Homo sapiens: one gene and its partners. The protein of the gene in region 4 purifies or fractionates together with the protein of the main gene of each other region. This does not show direct contact. Each region holds a gene or a part of one and is shown on either strand. Other genes may lie near its edges.

Evidence for each region.
Region 1: the proteins of RNGTT (region 4) and RPAP2 purify together in Homo sapiens (affinity purification with mass spectrometry, with the first as the bait; 2 studies listed by BioGRID). This does not show direct contact.
Region 2: the proteins of RNGTT (region 4) and PPP4R2 purify together in Homo sapiens (affinity purification with mass spectrometry; 2 studies listed by BioGRID and IntAct, with this or other methods). This does not show direct contact.
Region 3: the proteins of RNGTT (region 4) and SUPT5H purify together in Homo sapiens (affinity purification with mass spectrometry; 3 studies listed by BioGRID and IntAct, with this or other methods). This does not show direct contact.
Region 5: the proteins of RNGTT (region 4) and CLUH purify together in Homo sapiens (affinity purification with mass spectrometry, with the first as the bait; one large-scale study listed by BioGRID). This does not show direct contact.
Region 6: the proteins of RNGTT (region 4) and PPP4R3B purify together in Homo sapiens (affinity purification with mass spectrometry; one large-scale study listed by BioGRID and IntAct). This does not show direct contact.
Region 7: the proteins of RNGTT (region 4) and POF1B purify together in Homo sapiens (affinity purification with mass spectrometry, with the first as the bait; one large-scale study listed by BioGRID). This does not show direct contact.

What each region holds. Positions count from the first base shown.
Region 1 is NC_000001.11:92,302,059-92,305,558, reverse strand, and holds part of RPAP2 (putative RNA polymerase II subunit B1 CTD phosphatase RPAP2), read right to left. Parts: intron 1,583-3,500; coding exon 1,484-1,582; intron 1,276-1,483; coding exon 1,210-1,275; intron 1-1,209.
Region 2 is NC_000003.12:73,003,311-73,006,810, reverse strand, and holds part of PPP4R2 (serine/threonine-protein phosphatase 4 regulatory subunit 2), read right to left. Parts: intron 1-3,500. UniProt on the Homo sapiens protein: Regulatory subunit of serine/threonine-protein phosphatase 4 (PP4). May regulate the activity of PPP4C at centrosomal microtubule organizing centers.
Region 3 is NC_000019.10:39,459,082-39,462,581, reverse strand, and holds part of SUPT5H (transcription elongation factor SPT5), read right to left. Parts: intron 3,399-3,500; coding exon 3,333-3,398; intron 3,024-3,332; coding exon 2,993-3,023; intron 2,691-2,992; coding exon 2,622-2,690; intron 1-2,621. UniProt on the Homo sapiens protein: Component of the DRB sensitivity-inducing factor complex (DSIF complex), which regulates mRNA processing and transcription elongation by RNA polymerase II.
Region 4 is NC_000006.12:88,610,619-88,614,118, reverse strand, and holds part of RNGTT (mRNA-capping enzyme), read left to right. Parts: intron 1-1,236; coding exon 1,237-1,400; 3' UTR 1,401-3,500.
Region 5 is NC_000017.11:2,698,265-2,701,764, reverse strand, and holds part of CLUH (clustered mitochondria protein homolog), read left to right. Parts: intron 1-27; coding exon 28-152; intron 153-244; coding exon 245-399; intron 400-499; coding exon 500-625; intron 626-939; coding exon 940-1,087; intron 1,088-1,290; coding exon 1,291-1,383; intron 1,384-3,174; coding exon 3,175-3,500. UniProt on the Homo sapiens protein: mRNA-binding protein involved in proper cytoplasmic distribution of mitochondria.
Region 6 is NC_000002.12:55,611,123-55,614,622, forward strand, and holds part of PPP4R3B (serine/threonine-protein phosphatase 4 regulatory subunit 3B), read right to left. Parts: intron 1-3,500. UniProt on the Homo sapiens protein: Regulatory subunit of serine/threonine-protein phosphatase 4 (PP4). May regulate the activity of PPP4C at centrosomal microtubule organizing centers.
Region 7 is NC_000023.11:85,310,166-85,313,665, forward strand, and holds part of POF1B (protein POF1B), read right to left. Parts: intron 1-3,500. UniProt on the Homo sapiens protein: Plays a key role in the organization of epithelial monolayers by regulating the actin cytoskeleton. May be involved in ovary development.

The DNA of each region.
Region 1 (3,500 bases), on a different chromosome or scaffold from region 4:
TACATTTTAATATAGAAATGTTTATCAGTTTCTCCTCTTTGGCCTATAATTTTCCATCTTATTTTATGAAGTCTCTCTACCCCAAGTTTATATCTTCCCATATTGTCTTTTTTTTTTTTTTTTTTTGAGACGGAGCCTCACTCTGTTGCCCCGGCTGGAATGCAGTGGTGCGATCTCGGCTCACTGCAAGCTCCGCCTCCCGGGTTCACGCCATTCTCCTGCCTCAGCCTCCCGAGTAGCTGGGACTACAGGCGCCCGCCATCACGTTTGGCTAATTTTTTTGTATTTTTAGTAGAGATGGGATTTCACTGTGTTAGCCAGGATGGTCTCGATTTCCTGACCTCGTGATCTGCCCGCCTCGGCCTCCCAAAGTGCTGGGATTACAGGCTTGAGCCAGGGCGCCCGGTCTATTGTCTTTTTTTTGAAGACAGTGTCTTGCTCTGTTGCCCAGGCTGGAGTGCAGTGGCATGATCTCGGCTCACTGTAACCTCTGCCTCCCAGGTTCATGCGATGCATGTGCCTCAGCTTTCTGAGTAGCTGGGACTACAGGTGCGTACCACCACCTTTGGCTGATTTTTGTACTTTTTGTAGAGACAGGGTTTTGCCGTTGCCCAGGCTGGCCTCCAACTCCTTGAGCTCAGGTAATCCGCCCCCCTTGGCCTCCCAAAGTGCTAGGATTACAGGTGTGAGCCACCACGACCAGCATCTCCCATAGTGTCTTCTACCTTTTACATTTATGTCTTTAATCTACCTAAAATTGATCTATGTATAGAGACTGAGATAGGCATCAATTTTAATTTTTTCCATTTGCATAACTAATTGTGCCAGTATAATTTATTGAAAAATCCATCCTTTCTCTACTGATCTACAATACTCCCGCTGTCATATATCAAGTGTCTACATATGTGGTTAGTCTGCTGCTGACTCTCTATTCTGTTCCATGATTTATTTGCCCAGATTTGTGCCAATATGCACTTTTAAATGTTCAAGTCTTAATTGAAGCTTAAGCAAAAAAATTTTTAATACCTTGATTGAAATATTTACAAATAAAATCAAACTTTTAACATCACTATTTTCTAACCAGTAAGATTTTAAAGTTTCTTTTAGAATCCTATTTAATATCATTAAAAATTAATTGCCATGCCTTGTTAGGATAGTGGTTAGTAAAGAAAAAAAATTAATTGCCACAATGAAAGCCTTTAAACTCACCTTTCTTTCAGTAATATCATAGACTTTATTGGTTTTGGTAGAAATTTTATATTTCTGTTTTGGTACCTAAAGAAAAGAAAGTACAGCTTACAAAAGAATCCAAATAATAAACATGAACGTTATGTTACAAGATTAAGTCATCTACATATCATATCATTGGCCAATCCATGCCTTTAGTTCATGACCTTAGGTTTTATTTCTTATTCTTACAACAAAGTATTTTGCTAAATGAAAATAATAAAAGCCTATATTTTAAAAAAAATGAGTTACTTACAATTCCCAGCTTCTTCTGACATAAAGGATAACCACAGAGTTTGACAATAGAACGTTCATCCACGACATCACTGTAGTGAGCAGGTGTAATGAACCTCCCCTAAAATGAAATGAGAGGGTTATTTCCTCCTAGTTTAATAGAAAAGTTCATTTATCAGCTCTCTAAGCCTCATCAATCTTATCTGAAAACACAGGGATAGCAATAGTACCTTCCTCATAAGTTAGAGGTTAGAATTAGAGGAGAAAATAAAGCAAAATCACTTAGAGAAGTGCTCAACATATAGTGAGCATTCAAAAAAAAAGTTATTATTAAAAAAATTTCTGCCACAGTAGTCTCTGCATCTTTGTAGATTATATAGTTAAATGAAATAATTCTGAGGCATGAGGAAGAAGTGATGCTATAGCTATACACAAGCTAAATGACAACAGTATCTTTTATTTTTGAAAAAGTATTATTTAAAAAATTAACTAAATCACAAAATAATAAAATATAATTTTACCTATTTTTTAAAGCATAATCTTTAAAAACAAAGTATTTCAAAAGTGTCATTGTTACTGCAGAACACAGTTTGTGCAAAATTTTCCTACTTCTGAAAAATCTGTACAGAGTGGTGAGGTGATGGTTATAAGCTAACATCAAATATTTTCCTTTGACATCTTCATGATCAAATAATTTTGATTCTTGTTCATAACTTTGAGATCTTTTAACAAGTTTTTCTGTTTTCACAGAGACAGAAATACTTTTTATTGAGAGTGATGTAAGTTTTATGTTTCAAATGAAGCATATTTGCCTTTGTCTTTTCTGGTGTCATCAAATATGCAGATTCTGATGCAGTTACCTGTGTCAATAAAAATATGAATTGTCATGTTCATATTCCTGTTTAGAAAAAGATCTATCAACTACACTAAGAAGTGTTTTTGTAATAGAAGCTTTGAGTTTTAATTTGCCCTCTTAAGGATTACAAAAATATAAAGAGAAATTTCCATTCAAAATTTTAATGTAGTAAAGCTGTTTCAAAATTTTTTTATTCTCAAATTTTTATTTAGACAGGGTCTCGCTGTGTTGTCCAGACTGGTCTCAAACTCCTGGGCTCAAGCGATCCTACCGCCTTGGCTTCCCAAAGTGCTGGGATTACAGGTATGAGCCATCGTGCCTGGCCAAAAAAAAATTAATGCGGGCCGAGAGCAGTGGCTCATGCCTGTAATCCCAGCACTTTGGGAGGCCGACGCGGGCGGATCACGAGGTTAGGAAATCGAGACCATCCTGGCTAACACAGTGAAATCCCATCTCTACTAAAAATACAAAAAAATTAGCCGGGCGTAATGGTGGGCGCCCAGTCCCAGCTACTCGGGAGGCTGAGGCAGGAGAATGGCGTGAACACGGGAGGCGGAGCTTGCAGTGAGCAGAGATCCCGCCACTGCACTCCAGCCTGGGCGACAGAGTGAGGCTCCGTCTCAAAAAAAAAAAAAAAAAAAAAAAAAAAAATTTAATGCGGAATTTAATTCTCCCGTTTTATGTTGAGTCATAAATGAGCTGTATTTCAGGTTTTTGAAATAAGAAAATTGATGAAATTACATTGACAAAAATAATATTCTTCTGTTACTTAAAATAACACAACACAGAATATAGAAAACTGGAATTGCAATCATTAGAACAAATTGAAGAAAATCAAGTGATATTAGCAGACTGGTTAAAAGAACTATGACTAAGGGTAAAATATATTTGCTTTTTCTTTTTTTTTTTTTCTCCCCCATCCTCATTTTTCTTTTTTCCCATTTATTATTTATATACTTATTTTGAGACAGAGTCTCACTCTTGTTGCCCAGACTGGAGTGCAGTGGTGTGATCTCAGCTCACTGCAACGTCTGCCTCCTGAGTTCAAGTGATTCTCATGCCTCAGCCTCCTGAGCAGCTGGGATTACAGGCATGAGCCACACCTGGCTAATTTTGTATTTTTAGTAGAAACGAGGTTTCACCATGTTGGCCAGGCTGGTCTCGAACTCCTGACCTCAAGTGA
Region 2 (3,500 bases), on a different chromosome or scaffold from region 4:
ATCACTGCAGACCAATTTGAGAACAGCAGCTGAAACTGAGATGGATTTTGCCAACTCTAGCAATGAGTGAATAGACTGCTCTGAGTTCGAAAAGACGAAGCAGGTCTTGCTCACTTGAGCTCTTGAAAGTGACCCAACAGTGCTCCAATCTAGAGGTAAGCCCCACAATGAGGAGAAAGAGTCAAGAGAAATGAAGACAAGGTTCAAAAAAAAGCAGAAGTGGAGAACACAGCCTGGAATTTCAGAATGCAAACTGCCGTGTTCTTAAAACACTTCACAAAACCAACGAGAGTGCTCCATGTAGTTAGAAAAGCTACTCTGGGCCAAGTGTGGTGGCTCACGCCTGTAATCCCAGCACTTTGGGAGGCCGAGGCAGGTGGATTACGAGGTCAGGAGTCAGCCTGGCCCATGTGGTAAAACCCCGTCTCTACTAAAAATACAAAAACTAGCCAGGCATGGTGGCGCGCGCCTGTGGCCCCAGCTACCAGGGAGGCTGAGACGGAAGAATAGCTTGAACCTGGAGGCAGAGGTTGCAGTGAGCCGAGATCATACCACTGTATTCCAGCCTGGGCAACAGGGCGACACTCCATCTCAAAAAAAAAAAAAAAAAAAAAAAAAAATTGTGGCATATTCATACGATGCATCTACTCAGAAATAAAAAGAAATACAAACTATGTTGAATAGAAGAAGCCAAAGAATACATACTGTATGGTTCCATTTACATAAAATTCTAGAACTCACAAACTAATCTACATTGACAAAAAGTTGCTTGGAGGGAAGGCAGCACACACAGGGAGGGAAGATTACAATGGGGCATGAGCAAACTTCTGGGAGTAATGAATGAACATGTTCACAATCTTGATTGTTGTGATGGTTTCCTGAGTGTAGATATGAAAACTTAGCAACCTGTACATTTCGAATAAATACAGTGTATTGTATGTCAATTATACCTCAATAACACTGATTTTTTTTTTTTTGCAGACAGAGTTTCACTCTTGTTGCCCAGACTGGAGTGCAACGACGTGAGCTCGGCTCACTGTAACCTCTGCCTCCCGGGATCAGGTGATTCTCCCGAGTAGCTGGGATTACAAGCATGCACCGCACCCAGCAAATTTTGTATTTTTAGTAGAGATGGGGTTTCTCCATGTTGGTCAGGCTGGTCTTGAACTCCCGACCTCAGGTGATCCGCCGGCCTCAGCCTCCCAAACTGCTGGGATTACAGGCGTGAGCCACCGCACCCGGCCCGTAACACTGCTTTTTAAAAAAGGACTCAAAAGAAGAATTCAAGACAAAATGATAAGTACTGAAGATATGCAAAGATGCAGCAATATAGTCTCCCTCCCCTCCCCAACAAAAAAACCAAAGACAACAATTCACTTTCTTGAAATATTTAATATTTTTTAAAAATTTAAAAATTCATATTGAAAGACTACACCACCAGTGTGTAGATAAGTGGATAAAAAAAAAAAAAAAGACCACACCATATACCTGAGTACAATGACTCCAAAATATCCAACATTGATTTTCAAAATGCTTTTAAAGATCTAGTCTATAAAAACCACTGTATTTTGGCCGGGCGCAGTGGCTCACACCTGTAATCCTGACACTTTGGGAGGCGAAGGCGGGGAGATCACGAGGTCAAGAGTTTGAGACCAGCCTGGCCAATATGGTGAAACCCCGTCTCTACTAAACATACAAAAATTAGCCAGGCATAGTGGTGGGCACCTGTAATGCCAGCTACTGGGAGGCGGAGATTGCGGTTAGCGGAGATGGCGCCACTGCACTCCAGCTTGGGCAACAGAGCAAGACTCCGACTCAAAACACACACACACACACACACACACACACACACACACACACACACACGACTCCGACTCAAAACACACAAACACACACACATGACTCCGACTCAAAACACACACACACAAACAAACAAACAAACACACACACACACACACACACACACCCCACACTGTATTTTAAAGAAAAAAATCTTTTAGGAAGGTAGGCAAAAAGATTGGGCAGTTTATAAGGTAAAAAAAATTATCATCAGATGTTAACAGCTGGCCAGGCATGGTGACACCTCTGTAATCCCTGCACTTTAAGAGGCCAACAAAGTGGGCAGATCACTTAAGCTCGGGAGTTCAAGCTCAGGAGACCAGCCTAAAAACATGGTGAAACCCCATCTCTACAGAAAACACAAAAATTAGCCAGGTGTGGTGGCATATACCTGTAGTCCCAGCTACCGGGAAGGATGAGGTGGGAAGACAGAGTTTACAGTGAACCAAGATTGCATCACTGCACTCCAACCGGGGCAAAAGAGCAAGACTCTGTCTCAAAAATAAATAGATTTTAACAGTTTTACTGGGGGGAAACAATAGAATTAACAAACTTAAGACACTCAAGGATAGAAAATGTGAACCAAAGATTTTACTTCCAGCCAAAGTGACCTTCAAGATTAAAGGGCACATGCCAGGCACGGTGGCTCATGCCTATAATTCCAGCTCTTAGGGAGGCACAGGCGGGAGGATAGCCTGAGCCCAGGAGTTTGAGACCTGCCTGGGCAATATAGCGAGACCCCATGCTCAACAAAAAGGGGAAATAAAAAGGGGGGCAAAAAAAAAAAAAGAATAAAAGGCACAGACAACATACAAGACATACACATAAGAACTCCAGGCCAGGCGCAGTGGCTCATGCCTGTAATCCCAACACTTTGGGAGGCCGAGACAGGCAGATCACTTGAAGTCAGGAAATTGAGACCAACCTGGCCAACACGATGAAACCCCATCTCTACTAAAAATACAAAAGTTAGGCCAGGCACAGTGGCTCACGCCTGTAATCCCAGCACTTTGGGAGGCCAAGACAGGCAGATCACCTGAGGTCAGGAGTTCGAGACCAGCCCAGCCATCACAGAGAAACCCCGTCTCAACTGAAAATACAAAAAAGTAGCCGGGCGTGGTGGCATGCACCTGTAATCCCAGATACTCAGGAGGCTGTGGCAGAAAAATCGCTTGAACCCAGGAGGTGGAGGTTGTAGTGAGTCAAGATCGCACCACTGCACTCCAGCCTGGGCAACAGAGCAAGACTCTGTCTCAAAAAAAAACAAAACAAAAAAAAACTCCAGAAATATTGTTTCAATTAGCCGCTTTTCAATAATCTATTAAAGAATAAGCTTCATTCAGACAACCAAACTGACGAGAGACAGAGAGAATACAATGACAATGACATAAGGACTGGTTGTAGGCATGAGATATATACCTACTGTAAAACTAAGATTGACAGTTAAAAGGGAAAGTCAGCCGGGGCAGTGACTATGCCCGTAATCCCAGCACCTTTGGAGGCAAAGGCAGGGGGAGGATCACTTGAGGCCAGGAGTTCGAGAACAGCCTGTTCAACACAGCGAAACCCCGTCTCTACTAAAAACACAAAAATTAGCCAGGCAATGGTGGCACGTGCCAGTAACCCCAGCTACTCAGGAGGCTGAGGCACAAGAATCACTT
Region 3 (3,500 bases), on a different chromosome or scaffold from region 4:
TCTAGCCTGGGCAAGAAGAGTAAAACTCCATCTCAAAAAAACAAACAAAAAAATGAAGTCTTGATATATGCTACAATATGGATGAGTCTTGAAAACATTAAGTGAAGCAAGTCAGTCACGAAAGGCGACATATTGTATGATTCCCTTTGTATGAACCATTCAGAGTTCCAATAGTCAAATCCACAGAGAAAGAAGGTAGATTCATAGTTACCAGGAGCTGTGAGGAGGGAGGAATGGGGAGTGATGACTAATGGGTATCGGTTTATTTTTGGGATAATGAAAATGTCCTGGAATTAGATGGTGATGATGGTTATGAATACACTACAATATATAAAATCCACCACAGTTTACACTTTAAAAAAATTAAATTTTAGGCTGGGCACAGTGGCTCAGAACTGCCATCCCAGCACTTTGGGAGGCCAAGGCGGGTGGATCACTTGAGCCAGGAGTTCAAGACCAGGCTGGCCAACATGGTGAAACCCCGTCTCTATTAAAAATACAAAAAAATCAGCCGGGCATGGTGGCGGATGCCTATAATCCCAGCTACTCGGGAGGCTGAGGCAGAGGTTGCAGTGAGCCGAGACCACACCATTGCACTCCAGCCTGGGCAACAAGAGTGAAACTCCGTCTCAAAAAAAAATAATAATCAGAGACATAACTCAAATGAAGTAACTAGAATTTTACCCCAGGGTACCATGTAGGAGGATTTGAGCACACTTCTTTTAATTATTATTATTATTATTTTTTTTTTTTTTTTTTTGAGACAGTCTCGCTCTGTTGCCCAGGCTGGAGTGCAGTGGCACGAGCTTGGCTCACTACAACCTCCAACTCCTGGGTTCAAGCAATTCTCCTGTCTCAGCCTCCCAAGTAGCTGGGATTATAGACATGCACCACCACCCCTGGCTAATCTTTTGTATTTTTGGTAGAGACGGAGTTTCACCATGCTGGTGAAGCTGGTCTCGAACTCTTAACCTCAGGTGATCCACACGCCTCAGTCTCCCAAAGTGCTGGGATTACAGGCGTGAGCCACCGCGCCCGGCCTATTATTATTTTCTTTGTAGAAATCAGTTGTCACTATGTCACTATGATGTCCAGGCTGGCCTCGAACTCCTTTTGCCTCAGCCTCCCAAAATACTGGTATTACAGACATTAGCCACCACACCTAGCCAAAAGGTACCTTTTCAACCTCCCTGTTGGGGAATCATACCCCACAAATCCCAATCTCACCCATGACAGGCAGGGACACTTATTACTATAATAATGAGGAAGACATTCCACCCCCTACCCACCCCGAGACGGAGTCTCACTCTGTCGCCCAGGCTGGAGTGCAATAGCGCAGTCTTGGCTCACTGTAACCTCTGCCTCCTAGATTCAAGTGATTCTCCTGCCTCAGCCTCCCAAGTAGCTGGGATTACAGTCAAGCACCACCATGCCCAGCTGATTTTTGTATTTTTGGTAGGGACAAGGTTTCACCATGTTGGCCAGGCTGGTCTCAAACTGGCTGGTTTCGAACTCCTAACCTCGTGATCCACCCACCTCAGCCTCCCTAAGTGCTGGAGATTCAGGCATGAGCCACCATGGCCGGCCTTTGAGGAGGACATTTGAGCACATTTAAAAGCATAGTTTGCAAACCCTACAACTGTCTACTTGGTCCCACTGGGTCACACCCAGTGGCTGGACAGGTGAAAGCATGATCCCTAGCAGGGATCATGTTAACTGAGAAAGTTACCAGCCAGCACCCTTCATAGCGTTTGCCCTGGTTCCCAAACTGCCAATGAAGCCTTTGACAACAGCTCTGCTAAGTAAATGCAAGCTGCAGAACAAGTCCTAGCTGAGAGCTGGACATAAAGCCACCTAATCCTTTTTTTTGTCACACTGGAGTGCAGTGATGCGATCTCGGCTCACCGCAACTTCTGCCTCCTGGGTTCAAGTGATTCTGCCTCAGCTTCCCAAGTAGCTGGGACTACAGGTGTGCACCACCACGCCCAGCTGAGTTTTGTATTTTTAGTAGAGACGGGGTTTCACCACGTTGGCCAGGCTGGTCTCAAACTCCTGACCTCAAGTGATCTGCCTGCCTCAGCCTTCCAGAGTGCTGGTATTACAGGTGAATGCCACTGCACCCAGCCAAAAGCCACTTAATCCTAATGATGCTGAGAGGCAACCAAGGGGCCCAGAGAGGGGAAGTAGGTGCATCAGAGTCACACAGCTAAGAAGTGGCAAGGGCAGGACTCAAACTCTGTCAGTCTAAAGAAAGACCTGGGCCTTGGATGCAGCATTTGCTGCCTGGCATGTGGTGAAGTGGGTGACCCCAGCCCAACAGGGCTGGTGAACAGGCAAACCCACTCTCATGAAGAAAAGGTGCAGGAAGCTAGCTGGCTGACTTCCAAAGGGCTACAAGGGTGGGAAGACCCTGCCATAAATGCAGAGAACAAAGACAACATATCCATCTAGGCCGAGAAGAGCCCTTCCATCTAGGCAGTGGTCTTATTCCAGCTCAAGCAGCTCACTCAGCAGGCAGCTCTGCTCACAACAGAGGCACCTGGTACCCCTGAAGTTGACAATGTTCTTCCCTCTGGGTGTTGCCATGTCTCCCCACCAAGCCGCCTGTCTACCCGACTTACCGTGTCTGTGAACTGGTAGGCAATGAACTTGCGCATCAAGGAAATGGCCGTGGCCCGTTCCTCCCCAATCTGGAAGATGAGAGGCAGATTTGAGAGAGATGACAGGATGGAGGAAAGGACACAGGAAAGGGGGAAGGAGACAGCAGCAAGAAAAATAAAGTAGGACCAAGAGAGGAGAGAGAAAGAAGGATGGACAGCCAGGAAGATGGAGGTGGGAGATAGCCAGTCAGTAACGTGGAGTGAGGGATGGAGACAGAAGGACCAAGTGACTGGCAGGCCACGGAGACCCGGGACAGACAGACACTTCTCCCCCACAAAGCAGCCTCCCTCATTCTCCCACCTCCTCCAAGCCCCGAGATCAGAGCACATACCTTACATTTGACAGTCCACAGATTGGGATCCCTAAGCAGCAGAGGAAAAGGAAGGCCTTCAGTGAAGCTGGATCTTCAGTAACAAACAGACGAACCCCCAGGGCCACCCCCTTCCTCTGGTTTCACATCCAGGTTCCCTCACACTCACTGACTTCCCCACGCTTCTACCCAGGAGCAAGAGGAAAGAGAAAGTGCCACCTTGCCCTCCCTACCCCTGCCATCCACCACACTGCCTGTGTGACTCTGCCCTGACTTATTTCAGGGAGCCACCTGTCTAGGCACCATCACCCCATACAAGATTCGCACCCCAGCACGGCCCCCACCATCCCAACCCCCTTACTTGACTCCTGGGAGCAGCTGCTGCTGGGTGATGTCGTCTGAGAGCTCATCAGATCCTCCATACACCCTGAAGGGAGGAGGGCAGTCAGGAAGGGGTGAAGCTCTGTCAGATCCCCGCCCCTTCCCGCTTAGGGACCACCTGCTCCCTGCCCCCACCTGCCCCCACCAT
Region 4 (3,500 bases):
TGTTTGGCTCCAGTTGGCTTGTAGGTTCTACTCTCTAAACTGGTGATCTTGTGCCCATGCACCCAAAAGAGAAGTTTAAAGGGCAGGATACTGGGCTGTATACAAGTTGAATTTATTGAACAACAACAACAACAGAAACCATGATAATTTCAGATCTATTCAAAACTATAAAAACCATTGTTTGCCAGATGGTAAAAGACAAAATTATCAGGGGAAAATGTAATTTCCAGCTCTTAAAATAGCTTTATAAACAATGGAGAACAAAGTAAACGAAAACCATTTAAAAAGACAAAATCTGCTATGCTATTCTTCAGAGTGTTCTTTGGGTACAATATGAATGCTTTGGGAATTCAGAATAGTAAGTTTCTTTCATGGGGAACAACACAAATTAATTGAAGTTTATAAGGTATACCACTACCAGTAGCAGTTGTTGTTCTGGATTGCATTTTTAGTGGAGTTGAAAAAAGGTAAAAACCAAGATAACAGGTTAATCAAACTTTACTTTTAGAATGTGCAGTTGATGAGGAGGATGATGATGATGATATGATAAGCTAATGAGAAAATATTGAAATTGCCAATTTCAGCTTTGCAGTTTAAAAGTTACTGTTGTACATTTAGGAGTTCTCATTGGAACTAGCATCCATGTTCAGACAAGATGAGTTAATTTCAAAAGTCAGGATGATTAAGCCAATGTCTTTTCTTCTAAGACCAAATAGGTAAATAAAATGAAAAGGACTGGCACTAAATTTTGATAAGAGAAGATAATATGGTCTGCTAGCTACAATGAAACCACCTATTCAACAGGAATGGTGGCTGGTGCCATGTTTTATGTTTCGTAGAGTAGACTTCTTTCTGAGAGAAAGATTGAAGGACTATAGTGCACGTTTTCTGTAGAAGTTTTAGTTGAATACAGACTATGGTGCAATGTGTTGTGTTAGATTAAAATCCCATAAAAACTGGTTTGGGAGGGATAGAAAACCGTGGGGAAGACATGCTTATAGCCCAAACATTTAAAGTTTTGGTTTAAAATTAATACTGCAGTAAAGAGTAGCCATTAGACAAGCACATATTTTGGGTGTAGGGTAGGGAGGAGATAGTTCAATGTGAAGCACATCACTCAAATGGGTAAAATGGAAAGTATTTAGTATATTGGGATGAAAACCTTTCTCATAAGCCTGTGGTGAGTCAGCTGCCTTAATTAACCCTCACATGAGACCTGTCTCCCTTTGTCCACAGCTGTGTGTAACAGCATCTCAAACCCTGTCACCAAGGAGATGCTGTTTGAGTTCATCGACAGATGTACTGCAGCTTCTCAAGGACAGAAGCGAAAACATCATCTGGACCCTGACACGGAGCTCATGCCACCACCACCTCCCAAAAGACCACGCCCTTTAACCTAAGACCTGCCTGTGACTTGAGGGTTAAGAAGAAAGAGGAATGAGGAAAAAACGCTGTTGCCCATTTTTGTAGCCAGAGAAATTGAAAAACGACTGTGGCTTGATGTTGATACACATTTGAATTTTTTTTAAAAAAAGAAAGTTATCGTAGCCAGCCTGTAAATACTTGATGCATTCGTTTCCTCAGTGCTGCAATACATCGTGGACTTAAACATCTTATTTATCTGATAAACTCAGCCTTACCTTGTGGAATCTGAAGATTGAAATATCCAAAGGTTTAAACAAGATGGAAATCAATGAAAAAGAGGCCTTGTTTATATATGGGTAGCTTCACATTTAATTTATAAAGTTAACAATCTGGAAACTGTGAGCCCATAAAACAGTATTTTTTAGAAGTTGTGTTACAACTGTAGCAAATTTTCCTTTTAAAAAATCCAGGCAATGGCATTAAACATTCTTGCTATCATTTACCATGGATTTCCTACATTTCTGAGATCCCTGTATTCAAAAACAAATGACAGGGTTGTTAAGTTGTACTATATTAAACAACTTGGTCTGGTTTATATCATTTTAACAAGTTTTTTGGAAATGTAAAAGAAAAAAGTAAAGCTCCATTTTTGTGAATTGCATTGTTTCTAAAGGAAGTATTTTGAGTATTTTCATCTGTTTGTATTGTTTCGACTATGATATCAGATATCCAGTGTGTCCATTCTGGCAGTGGTTTTGAGTTACTTCATGGAACTTGGACATACACCACCAGGTCCTTTATGTGTTGTTCTCCTGGGAGACTTCTTTTTTTAAATGCCAGGGCTACTTCTGCTTTACCTCAGTGGTATCAGCACATTGTAAATTACGTTAAAACACACAACTCACTGTGATCTATGGGAGTGATATCAAATACAAACGATGTTGTGTTCCTTCTCTCGAACAAAACAGCAAAGGGAATGCCAGCTAACTTCTTTGATTAGAAGGTAATGTCATGGAATAGAATGCTGTCACCAGAAAATGCTCTCCCACTGCTAGATAAATGCAGAGGCAAAGTGTAGACATCTGTAGGAACTAAATATCAAGGAAATCAAGACATTTATTTTCAAAGCGAGAATTCTATCTACATTCTATTCTGCGGATGTTATTTCTGTTATACATCTGAATTTTAAAATGTTTACTGATAGATAATGGATTTAAAGGGCGGCTAATTGATTGTCTGCCATTGTTGATAAACTGTTCTAATTGGTTTGTGAAAGAACTCTGAGAATTAGCTAAATGGAGGCTAGTGTATTTATTTTTAGAGGTACATGTTTTAAGTAAATGTATTTAAAACAAATTTTCATGGTCTGAATTGTATATGTAAATGCATATCTGTGTAAGTATATGCAAGTGTATATTCTTCTACTGATTCAGTCAGACACGAAATCCAACTGAATTACCCGGTAGACTGAATATCTGACGGGATTTCTATATGGACATAGCACAGATGAACCAAAAATGTATTTATATTCACCTGAGTTTTAATGTTTTTAAACAAAGTTTTCTCCTGCAGTGCTTTTCTATATGAAATAGTTGAGTCAAGCTTGGGCTTTTTTCTTCGTTGTTCCCAAGTCATGTAATGTATAGTGAATTTATCCAAAACGCCATTGTAACGTTTTTTACTAGAGTGTTTTTGCACATTTGGGCGCTAAAGGGATTAAAACAACTGATGCCACAATGACTATTGAAGGAGGGAAAATTCTCAAGGTTCCATAGTATCTTTTACAAAATGGATTAAAAAAAAAATGCCTATGCAACTTCAAATAGTCTGATGCCTGCTTCCCCAGGACGAGTGACTCTTCCACGGTGTGCTGCTTTCCCTCCGAGCCTGTGGAAAGGCAGAGCCCTTTTGCAGATACGAAAGCAAGCTTTTGCCAATGATCTTTAATGGAGTTAAAATGTTTATGGTAATTGTAACCTTTCAAATGAGTTACGTGAAAAGAGCATCTCACTTTTAATACACCCAGATATTTTCTTCAAGTCTTTGTGCATTTTAGCAGGACTTAATTTTCTTAATTTATTCTTTCCTTTCAATTATAGTGACATAGAGTAGTTGGCCTTATAAGTAGATCCCAT
Region 5 (3,500 bases), on a different chromosome or scaffold from region 4:
GCTGACCACCAGCCTCGGGTCCCTCAGACAGCGGGAAGCGGAAGAAGGGCTTGGAGATGGACCCCATCGACTGCACACCACCCGAGTACATCCTGCCAGGGAGCCGGGAGCGGCCACTGTGTCCCCTGCAGCCCCAAAACCGTGACTGGAAGGTAGGATCCTGGGGGAGGGAGGAAGAGGGTCCCTGGCGGGGTGGAGGCCCCACACCAGAGGCCTGGCCCCTCAGACTCGGCCGCTCCCGAAGCCCTTGCAGTGCCTGAAAGTACTCACCATGAGCGGATGGAACCCGCCCCCGGGGAACCGGAAGATGCACGGGGACCTCATGTACCTGTTTGTGATCACAGCCGAGGACCGGCAAGTCAGCATCACCGCGTCCACACGGGGCTTTTACCTGAATCAGTGAGTCCCTGCCAGCCCACCACACCCCCCTGCCGTGCCAGCCGTCCTGGGTCTGGGCAGACACCTGGGCCCCCGCTCAGTGCCCGCCCTCTCCCTGCAGGTCCACAGCTTATCACTTCAACCCCAAGCCCGCCAGCCCCCGCTTCCTAAGCCATTCCCTAGTGGAGCTGCTCAACCAGATCAGCCCGACCTTCAAGAAGAACTTCGCTGTGCTGCAGAAGAAAAGGTAGTGCCTTTGTCCCCTCCCGCCTTGTCTCATGGCACACGGGGGCATGGGGTGAGCCGGCCCACCTGCACTCCAGTGCTTCTGTCTGAAGAAACCGCCCTGGGCCCCCAGTGTTGGAGTCCCCGCTCTAGGGAGCTGTCGGCCAGTGCCGAGACAGCAGCCGCAGGAGAGGCGCCCGTGCACTTCCATCTGGCTCCAGGGCAGTGTCTCAGGGTGGGAGATGCCGGAGCAGGCGGGGGCCTCAGAAAAGGGGCCCGTGGAAGGGCTCTGAGCTTGGTGGGCTGCCCCATCTCCCCCTCCCCTGCCTGCCACAGGGTCCAGCGCCACCCGTTCGAGAGGATCGCCACCCCATTCCAGGTGTACAGCTGGACAGCCCCCCAGGCGGAGCATGCCATGGATTGCGTGCGTGCAGAGGACGCCTACACCTCGAGGCTGGGCTATGAGGAGCACATTCCTGGACAGGTGCCTGCAACCTGGCCCTGCCCTCGCTGGGCACCCCTGCCCTCCTGGGTGCTGGGCTGGTTCCGTGCACTTCCCTGGAGGCCCCATGCTTGACTTCATTTGGGAGTCTGGGGCTCTTCTCAGGAAGGTAGAAGGAGCGACTTCCGGGAGCAGGTCACAGGGCACAGGCTGAGCTCGTTTTTCCCTCCCTGATCTCTCTGCAGACCCGAGACTGGAATGAGGAGCTGCAGACGACGAGGGAGCTGCCTCGCAAGAACCTGCCTGAGCGGCTGCTCCGAGAAAGGGCCATATTCAAGGTGCCTGCAGCCTCTGCTGACCGGCAGTCTGAGGCCCGCTGTCCACCTGCTGACGGGTTTTCTCATGGAGAGGAGGAAAGCAAGGGAGGCAGGGGCAGCCCTAACCCTGTCAGGTTCCCCGAAGGCCAGTCAGCGTCTCCCGCAGGGTCTGCTAGCCTTCCGCCTCCCAGCAGACCATCCCAGTACCTTTCTCTGGCCTCTCTGAGGCTTTGAGTCCCTGGAAGGAGCGGGCCCTACTTCCCATAGGGACTGAGTGTCCAGGGCCGTGCAGCTTCCCGCCCTCTGTGACTGCTGCGGGGCTTTTGCCTGGGCGAGCACTGGCCGGCCATGGCCCTTCTAGGGCGGGTGCTCATTTGCATAACACTTTTAGTTTGCTGGGGTTTAAAAGTTATTAGTGCTGGGTTACTAAGAGAAATGAGGAAAAGCAGTTGCTTAAGAAAAAAAAAATCTCAGGCCGGCTTCAGTAGCTCATGCCTGTAATCCCAGCACTTTGGGAGGCCGAGGCGGGCGGATCACAAGGTCAGGAGTTCAAGACCAGCCTGGCCAATATGGGGAAACCCCATCTCCACTAAAAATACAAAAATTAGCTGGGTGTGGTGGCGCATGCCTGTAGTCCCAGCTACTCGGGAGTCTGAGACAGGAGAATTGCTTGAACCCAATAGGCGGAGGTTGCAGTGAGCCGAAATTGCATCACTGCACTCCAGCCTGGGCGACAGAACAAGACTACGTCTCAAAAAAAAAAAAAAGAAATCTCAGCCAGGCACAGTGGCTCACGCCTGTAATCCTAGCACTTTGGGAGGCTGAGACAGGCAGATCACTTGAGCCCAGGAGTTGGAAACCAGCCTACGAAACATGGTGAAACCTCGTCTCTGCAAAAAATACAAAAGATTAGCCAGGCATGGTGGCATGTGCCTGTAGTCCCAGCTACTCGGGAGGCTGGAGTGGGAGGATGGCCTGAGCCAGGGGAAGTCGAGGCTTCAGTGAGCTCGGATCTCGTGCCGCTGCATTCCAGCCTTGGCAACAGCGTGATACCCTGTCTGAAAACAACCAACCTCCCATAGTTATACTGCCTAGAGATGATAATTGTAGAAACAAAAACTCATTTCTCGGGTACCGACTTCACCAGAGATGGTGCCAAGTGCGTTATAGAGACTATTTCCTATAATATATTGGACAACTTGTAAAGGTCAATACCTTTATCTGTTCAAGTTCACCTGGCACATAACTGGTGGATCCCAAACCTGCGCACGCTTGTTAATCACTAAGCCCTGCTGTCTCCCTCAGCACAAGTGTATTCTCAAAACATGGGGGTTTTGGTTTGTTTGCGCTTTTTTAGAAATGGAGTCTCACTCTGTCCCCCAGGCTGGAGTGCAGTGGTGTGATTTCGGCTCACTGTAACCTCCACCTCCCGGGTTCAAGCAATTCTCCTGCCTCAGCCTGTCGGGTGGCTGGGACTACAGGCGCGCGCCACCTCGCCTGGCTGATTTTTTTTGTATTTTTATTAGAGATGGGGTTTCACCATATTGGTCAGGCTGGTCTCGAACTCGTGACCTCAAGTGGTCTGACCGCCTCGGCCCCTCAAAGTGCTGGGATTACAGGTGTGAGCCACCGCGCCCGGCCAAAACATGGTTTTCTTGCCCTTTTCTACATATGAGGAAACTGAGGCTCCGGGTCCTTGGGTTTCCAAGGCAGGCCCGGTTGCCTCCGCGGTCTAGGTGCGTGCGCTTGGCCAGGTGGATGCAGGCTCTTGTGGGCGCGGCCTCTAACCCTGCCCTCCTCGACCCCCGCCAGGTGCACAGCGACTTCACCGCGGCAGCCACCAGGGGCGCCATGGCCGTCATTGACGGCAACGTGATGGCCATCAACCCCAGCGAGGAGACCAAGATGCAGATGTTCATCTGGAACAACATCTTCTTCAGCCTGGGCTTCGACGTCCGAGACCACTACAAGGACTTCGGGGGGGACGTGGCGGCCTACGTGGCGCCCACCAACGACCTGAATGGCGTCCGCACGTACAACGCGGTGGACGTGGAGGGGCTGTACACGCTGGGCACGGTGGTGGTGGATTACCGCGGCTACCGGGTCACGGCCCAGTCCATCATCCCCGGCATCCTGGA
Region 6 (3,500 bases), on a different chromosome or scaffold from region 4:
AAGTGTTGAGATTACAAGTGTGAGCCACTGTGCCTAGTATGACTCTTGTTTTTTATTAAGATATGTTGCCCAGGCTGGGGTGCAATGGCTACGCACAGGCACAATCATAGCACCCTACAGCCTCAAACTCCTGGCCTTAAGTGATCCTCCAGCCTCAGCCTCCCAAGGAGCTGGGACCACAAGCACACGCCACCACACCTGGCTTTGACTCTGCTTTTGATTTAGTCAGTATCAGTGGGACTGATTTGAAGTAACTTAAAATTTCTGTCACACCTATCAGGTATGTTATTTCATGTTGTATCATATAATGATTCTCTTCTCTTTCCAACATGTTTAAATGCTTAAGTTTATTGGGTAAGTACATCTTCTTCCATTAACGACTTCAGTACTATGCACAGTAAGGAAGAAAGTGATGTGAATCAATAATGACTTTTCAATATCCAGTCATATGACATTCAGCTTGACTCATTCTAACTCCTTTTAGGCTCACAATTTGGTACTTCATTTATGAAAGAAAAGATGTATCTTGAGCACACAATTTAGTAGTTGGCTCATTTTAAAACTATAATGTTAAAAGAAGAATGTTAAACATTCCCCTCTGAATTTACTCAATTTTTTTTTTTGAGACAGAAAAATCGCTTTGTCTCTCCACCTGGAGTGCAGTGGTACAATCATGGCTTACTACAGTCTCGACCTCCGAAGCTCAAATGATCCTCCCGTCTCACCTCCAGAAGTAGCTGGCACTATAGCTGCGCACCACCACACCTGGATAATTTTTGAATTTTTTTTGGTAGAGACAGGGATCTTGCTATGTTGTGCAGGCTGTTCCCGAAATCCTCAGCTCAAGGGATCCTCCTGCCTTGGCCTTCCAAAGTGCTGAGATTGCAGGTGTGAGCCACCATGCCTGCCATAGTCAACATATTTTAATACAGCAAAATGGCCTATAAACATCTCATTCACTTACTCATTAAGTTTTTAATAAAAAACCCGCTAATGGAAACAAAAAATTTAACCCATTACTGCAGTCCCAGCTACTGGAGAAGCTGAGATGGGAGGATCACTTGAGCCTAGGAGTTCAAGCTCAGCCTGGGCATCATAGCAAGATCCCATCTCTGAAAACAATTTTTTAAATTTTAACTCCACTACTGAACAACAGACTTCATGTGATATTTGGAAATTAATAACTTTCTAGACTAATTTATTGAATAACCTAAATGATGCCTTTTACAAAGGATAATTCTAACAAACATAGAAAAATGTTACTGTATTTGGAAATCTCAATTTGTGTAACTTCAAATAACTACAAATTAAGCTGAATACAGCCACTGCTCACACCTGTAATCCCAGCACCATGGAGGTGCTGAAGCAAAAGGATCACTTGAGGCCAGGAATTCAAATCAGCCTGGGCCACACAGTGAGACCGTCTCTACAAACACAACAACAACAAAGTTTTGTAATAAATTTTTTAAAGGTGCAAATTTAGCCTGGACAACATAACGAGACCCCATCTTTACAAATTTTTTAAAAAATTAGTAAGGTTGGCCGGGCTTGGTGGCTCACACCTGTAATCCCAGCACTTTGGGGGGCCGAGGCGGGCGGATCACGAGGTCAGGAGATCGAGACCATTCTGGCTAACACGGTGAAACCCCATCTCTACTAAAAAATACAAAAAAATTAACTGGGCGTGGTGGCGGGCGCCTGTAGTCCCAACTACTTGGGAGGCTGAGGCAGGAGAATGGTGTGAACCCGGGAGGCGAAGCTTGCAGTGAGCAGAAATCGCACCACCACACTGCAGCATGGACGACAGAGCGAGACTCCATCTCAAAAAAAAAAAAAAAATTAGTCAAGCATGGTGGCTCACATCCATAATCCCATCTACTCAGAAGGCTGAAATTGGAGGATCGCTTGAGCCCAGGAGGTTGAGGCTGCAGTGAGCTGTGATCAAACCACTGTACTCCAGCCTAAGGGACAGAAGAAGACCCTCTCAAAAAAATTATTTTCAAAAGTGCAAATTGAAGATTTGGGTGAAAATATGAAAAACCATGTCTATTACAAAGAAACTAAGTTTAACATAACCCCTAAATGGCCCTATGATTTCAATTAGAAAAGTGTACTCAATTTAAACAAAAATAAACAGGTAACATCATTCACACAAGTTTTTCACTCTTCTTCAGTGTTTCCATATTCTTCTCATTACCAGAGTTCTCTTATACACCTGAATGTTATGTTGCCAAAAAAAAAAAGCCCAACGAAAAAATAAACTATTACAAAACCCCAAATAGTATATTATTTAAATGTGATTACAGAAAACATTTCCAAATGGTGTAATTTTTTTAAATAATGCATTTTTTCCAATACTTTATACTAAGTGTATACAAAAATGCTAATTATCTAGAACTAATTTTCTAGTAGAGCAACATTATACATGAAATTACCTACATATCCTAATGATTCTAAAGTATTCACAGAATCACTATGTATTTTTAACTTATGTTGGGTGACTATTTTAAATACAAACCTACTCCATAATGTGATGTTTCCAAAGTAACAACAGCTAAAAGATCTTATATACAATCTGAGAAGAATCCATTATTAAACCTAAATTTGTAGGGAACTGTTTATGACTTAGTTACATTTAAGAACAAAGTTCCTGATAATTATATTCATGCAGATAAGGGAAATATGGTAAAAAAAAAAAAAAAATTAGTATTTCTTTCCCCACAAAGAAGCAAGCAAACAAAAACAAACTAAAAGTGATCATCTGGTAAAAACTCGGTATAAAGACAGAGATTAAGAGCTGCCTGGCTGACTGAGAAATTAAATTTACTTAAATGTCTACCTTACAATGTCTAAGGTATAGGAAACATCTTCAGGTTTTCAATTCAGGACAAATGTTTAATTTGCTTCTCCATCAAAAAAGACACACAATATTTTCTAAACAGAGAAAAAAGCTATGAATTGAATATTGAAAATTTTAAAGTATTTCAAATAACTGATTAAGAATGTGTTATATACATAATTGTTCTAACAGTAAGACTTTGTAATAATAAGCTGCACAACAGACAGAATTTTATTCCTCCAACTACGAAGTACTTGTTTCTGGGCATCCAAATTTTCATAAACCTTGAAGTGGGCACTGACGCTGTAAATGTAATCCTAAAATAATTTATCTTCCTTCAAAAATCTCTGCCATCGTGACTTTACATACCACACACAAAAAAGAATACCTGGAAATAATTCAAATGTATAACAACAAGTGTATGTCATACATAAGAATACTATACAGAGTTTAAAAAGAAAACTAGATCTACATTGTTAACATGAACGAATATTCAAAATGAATGTGTGAAAAATGCAAGCTGCAGAATACATGTAAGAGTATGACATCCACTGTGTAAAGTTTAAAAACACACAACAGACTACATATTATTTATGGATACATACATATGCAGAAAAGGTATAAAAGCATGTACACAAAGAATACACATCAACTTCAGAAT
Region 7 (3,500 bases), on a different chromosome or scaffold from region 4:
CATAATTCCAAGAACAACAAAAATCTCAACCAATAAGAAAAAACACTTAATTGATGACAACATCAAGATAATAGAAATGTTAGAATTATCTGATAAAGTGTATAAAACAACCATCATAAATACTTCAACAAGAAGTTGCAAGGAGACTGTAAAAACACATTGTCTCAATGACAAAATAGAAAGTCTCAGCAAATAAATAGAAGACATAAAGAATACCTAAATGGAAATTTTAGAACTGAAAAGGACAGTAACAAGACAAAGAAACAAAAACCAAACCAAAACAACAAAGCTCTCAAGGAGTGGGCTAAAAAGCAGAATGGAGAGAACAGAGGAAAGAATTAATGAACTTAAAGATAGAATAAAATAAAGTATATAATCTGAATATCAGAAACAAATAGATTAGAAAAAATTAAACAGAGCTTAAGGGTTTGTGGGTGTACACCACATATCTAGCTTTCATGTTCAGAGTCCTGGAAGGAAAGGAGAAAGAGGATGGAGCTGAAAAAATATTCAAAAAAATTATGGCTGAGAAGTTTCCCAAATTAGTAAAACCTGGTAACATACATATTCAAGAAGCTGAGCATATCCCAAACAATATAAACCCAAAGAAATCCATTACCAGACAAATCAGAGTCAAACTTCTTAAAACTAAAGACAAACTAAAAATTTTCAAAGCAGCAAGAAAAACATTAATTATTGGGAATAACAATTCAAATGACAACAGATTTCTCATTACAAATCATGAAGCCCAGAAGGAACTAGGATACTATTTTTTAAGTACTAAAAGAAAATAATTGTCAACTGTAAATTCTATATGCAGTGAAATTATCCTTTAGGAATGGAGGGAAATTCACATTTTCAGATGAGGGAAAATGAAAATAATTTGTTACTAGCAGACCTACCCTTAAAGAATAGCTAAAAGAAGTTGTCTAAAGAGAAGAAAATCATAAAAGAAAGAATTTGGAATATTAAGAAGGAAGATATAGCATTGTAAGCAAAAATATGGTAAATACAATAAGTTTTCCTTCTTTTCTAGAGTTTTCTTTTTTTATTATACTTTAAGTTCTGGGATACATGTGCAGAACGTGCAGGTTTGTTACATAGGTATACACGTGCCATGGTGGTTTCCTGCACCCATCAACCTGTCATCTATCTACATTAGGTATTTCTCCTAATGCTATCCCTCCCCTAGCCCCCCACCCCCTGACAGGCCCCAGTGTGTGATGTTCCCATGTGTTCTCACTGTTCAACTCCCACTTATGAGTGAGAACATGAGGTGTGTGGTTTTCTGTTTCTGTGTCAGTTTGCTGCGAATGATGGTTTCCAGCTTCATCCATGTCCCTGCAAAGGACATGAACTCATCCTTTTTAATGGCTGCATAGTATTCCATGGTGCGTATGTCCCACATTATCTAGTCTATCATTGATGGGCAATTTGGGTTGGTTCCAAGTCTTTGCTATTGTGAATAGTGCTGCAATAAACATATGTGTGCATGTGTATTTATAGTAGAATGATTTATAATCTTTGGGTATATACCCAGTAATGGGATTGCTGAGTCAAATGGTATTTCTAGTTCTAGATCCTTGAGGAAGCGCCACACTGGTTGAACTAATTTACACTCCCACCAATAATCTAAAAGCGTTCCTATTTCTCCACATCCACTCCAGCATCTGTTTTTTCCTGACTTTTTGATGATCGCCATTCTAACTCACGTGAGATGGTATCTCATTGTGGTTTTGATTTGCATTTCTCTAATGACCAGTGATGATGAGCATTTTTTCATGTTTGTTGGCTGCATTAATGTCTTATTTTGAGAAATGTCTGTTCATACCCTTTGGCCACTTTTTGATGGGGTTGTTTGTTTGATTCTTGTAAATTTGTTTAAATTCTTTGTAGATTCTGGGTATTAGCCCTTTGTCAGATGGATAGATTGCAAACATTTTCTCCCATTCTGTAGGGTGCCTGTTCACTCTGATAATAGTTTCTTTTGCTGTGCAGAAGCTCTTTAGTTTAATTAGATCCCATTTGTCAATTTTTGCTTTTGTTGCTATTGCTTTTGGTGTTTTAGTCATGAAGTCTTCCCCATGCCTATGTCCTGAATGGTATTGCCTAGGTTTTCTTCTAGAGTTTTTATGGTTTTAGGTCTTACCTTTAAGTCTTTAATCCATCTTGAGTTAATTTTTGTATAAAGTGTAAGGAAGGGGTCCAGTTTCAGTTTTCAGCATATGGCTAGCCAGTTTTCCCAGCATTATTTATTAAACAGGGAATCTTTTCCCCATTGCTTGTTTTTGTAAGGTTTGTCAAAGATCCAATAGTTGTAAATGTGTGGCATTATTTCTGAGGCCTCTGTTCTGTTCCATTGGTCTATCTCTCTGTTTTGGTACCGGTACCATGCTGTTTTTGTTACTGAAGCCTTGTAGTATAGTTTGAAGTCAGGTAGCATGATGCCTCCAGCTTTGTTCTTTTGGCTTAGGATTGTCTTGGATATATGGGCTCTTTTTTTGGTTCCATATGTAATTTAAAGTATTTTTTCTAATTCTGTGAAGAAAGTCAATGGTAGCTTGATGGGGTTAGCACTGAATCTATAAATTATTTTCAGCTGTATGGCCATTTTCAAGATATCGATTCTTCCTATCCATAACAATGGAATGTTTTTCCATTTGTTTGTGTCCTCTCTTATTTCCTTGAACAGTGGTTTGTAGCTCTCCTTGAAGAAGTCCTTCACATCCCTTATAAGTTATATTCCTAGGTATTTTATTCTCTTTGTAGCAATTGTGAATGTGAGTTCACTCAAGATTTGGCCCTCTGTTTGTCTATTATTGATGTATAGGAATGTTTGTGACTTTTGCACATTGATTTTGTATCTTGAGACTTTGCTGAAGTTGCTTATCAGCTTAAGGAGATTTTGGGTTGAGACGATGGGGTTTTCTAAATATACAATCATGTCGTCTGCAAACAGAGACAATTTGACTTCCTCTCTTGCTATTTGAATCCCCTTTATTTCTTTCACTTGCCTTGTTGCCCTGGCCAGAACTTCCAATACTATGTTGAATAGGAGTAGTGAGAGAGGGCATCCTTGTCTTGTGCCGGTTTTCAAAGACAATGCTTCCAGCTTTTGTCCATTCAGTATGATATTGGCTGTTGGTTTGTCGTAAATAGCTCTTATTATTTTGAGATACATCCCATCAATACCTAGTTTATTGAGAGTTTTTAGCATGAAGCGGTGTTGAATTTTATCAAAGGCCTTTTCTGCCTTTATTGAGATAGTCATGTGGTTTTTGTCATTGATTCTGTTTATGTAATGGATTATGTTTATTGATTTGCATATGTTGAATCAGCCTTGCATTCCAGCGATGAAGCTGACTTGATCATGGTGGATAAGCTTTTTGATATGCTGCTGGATTCAGTTTGCTGTATTTTATTGAGGATTTTTGCATCGACGTTCATCAGGGATATTGGCCTGAAATTTTCCTTTTTTGTTCTGTCTCTGCCAGATTTTG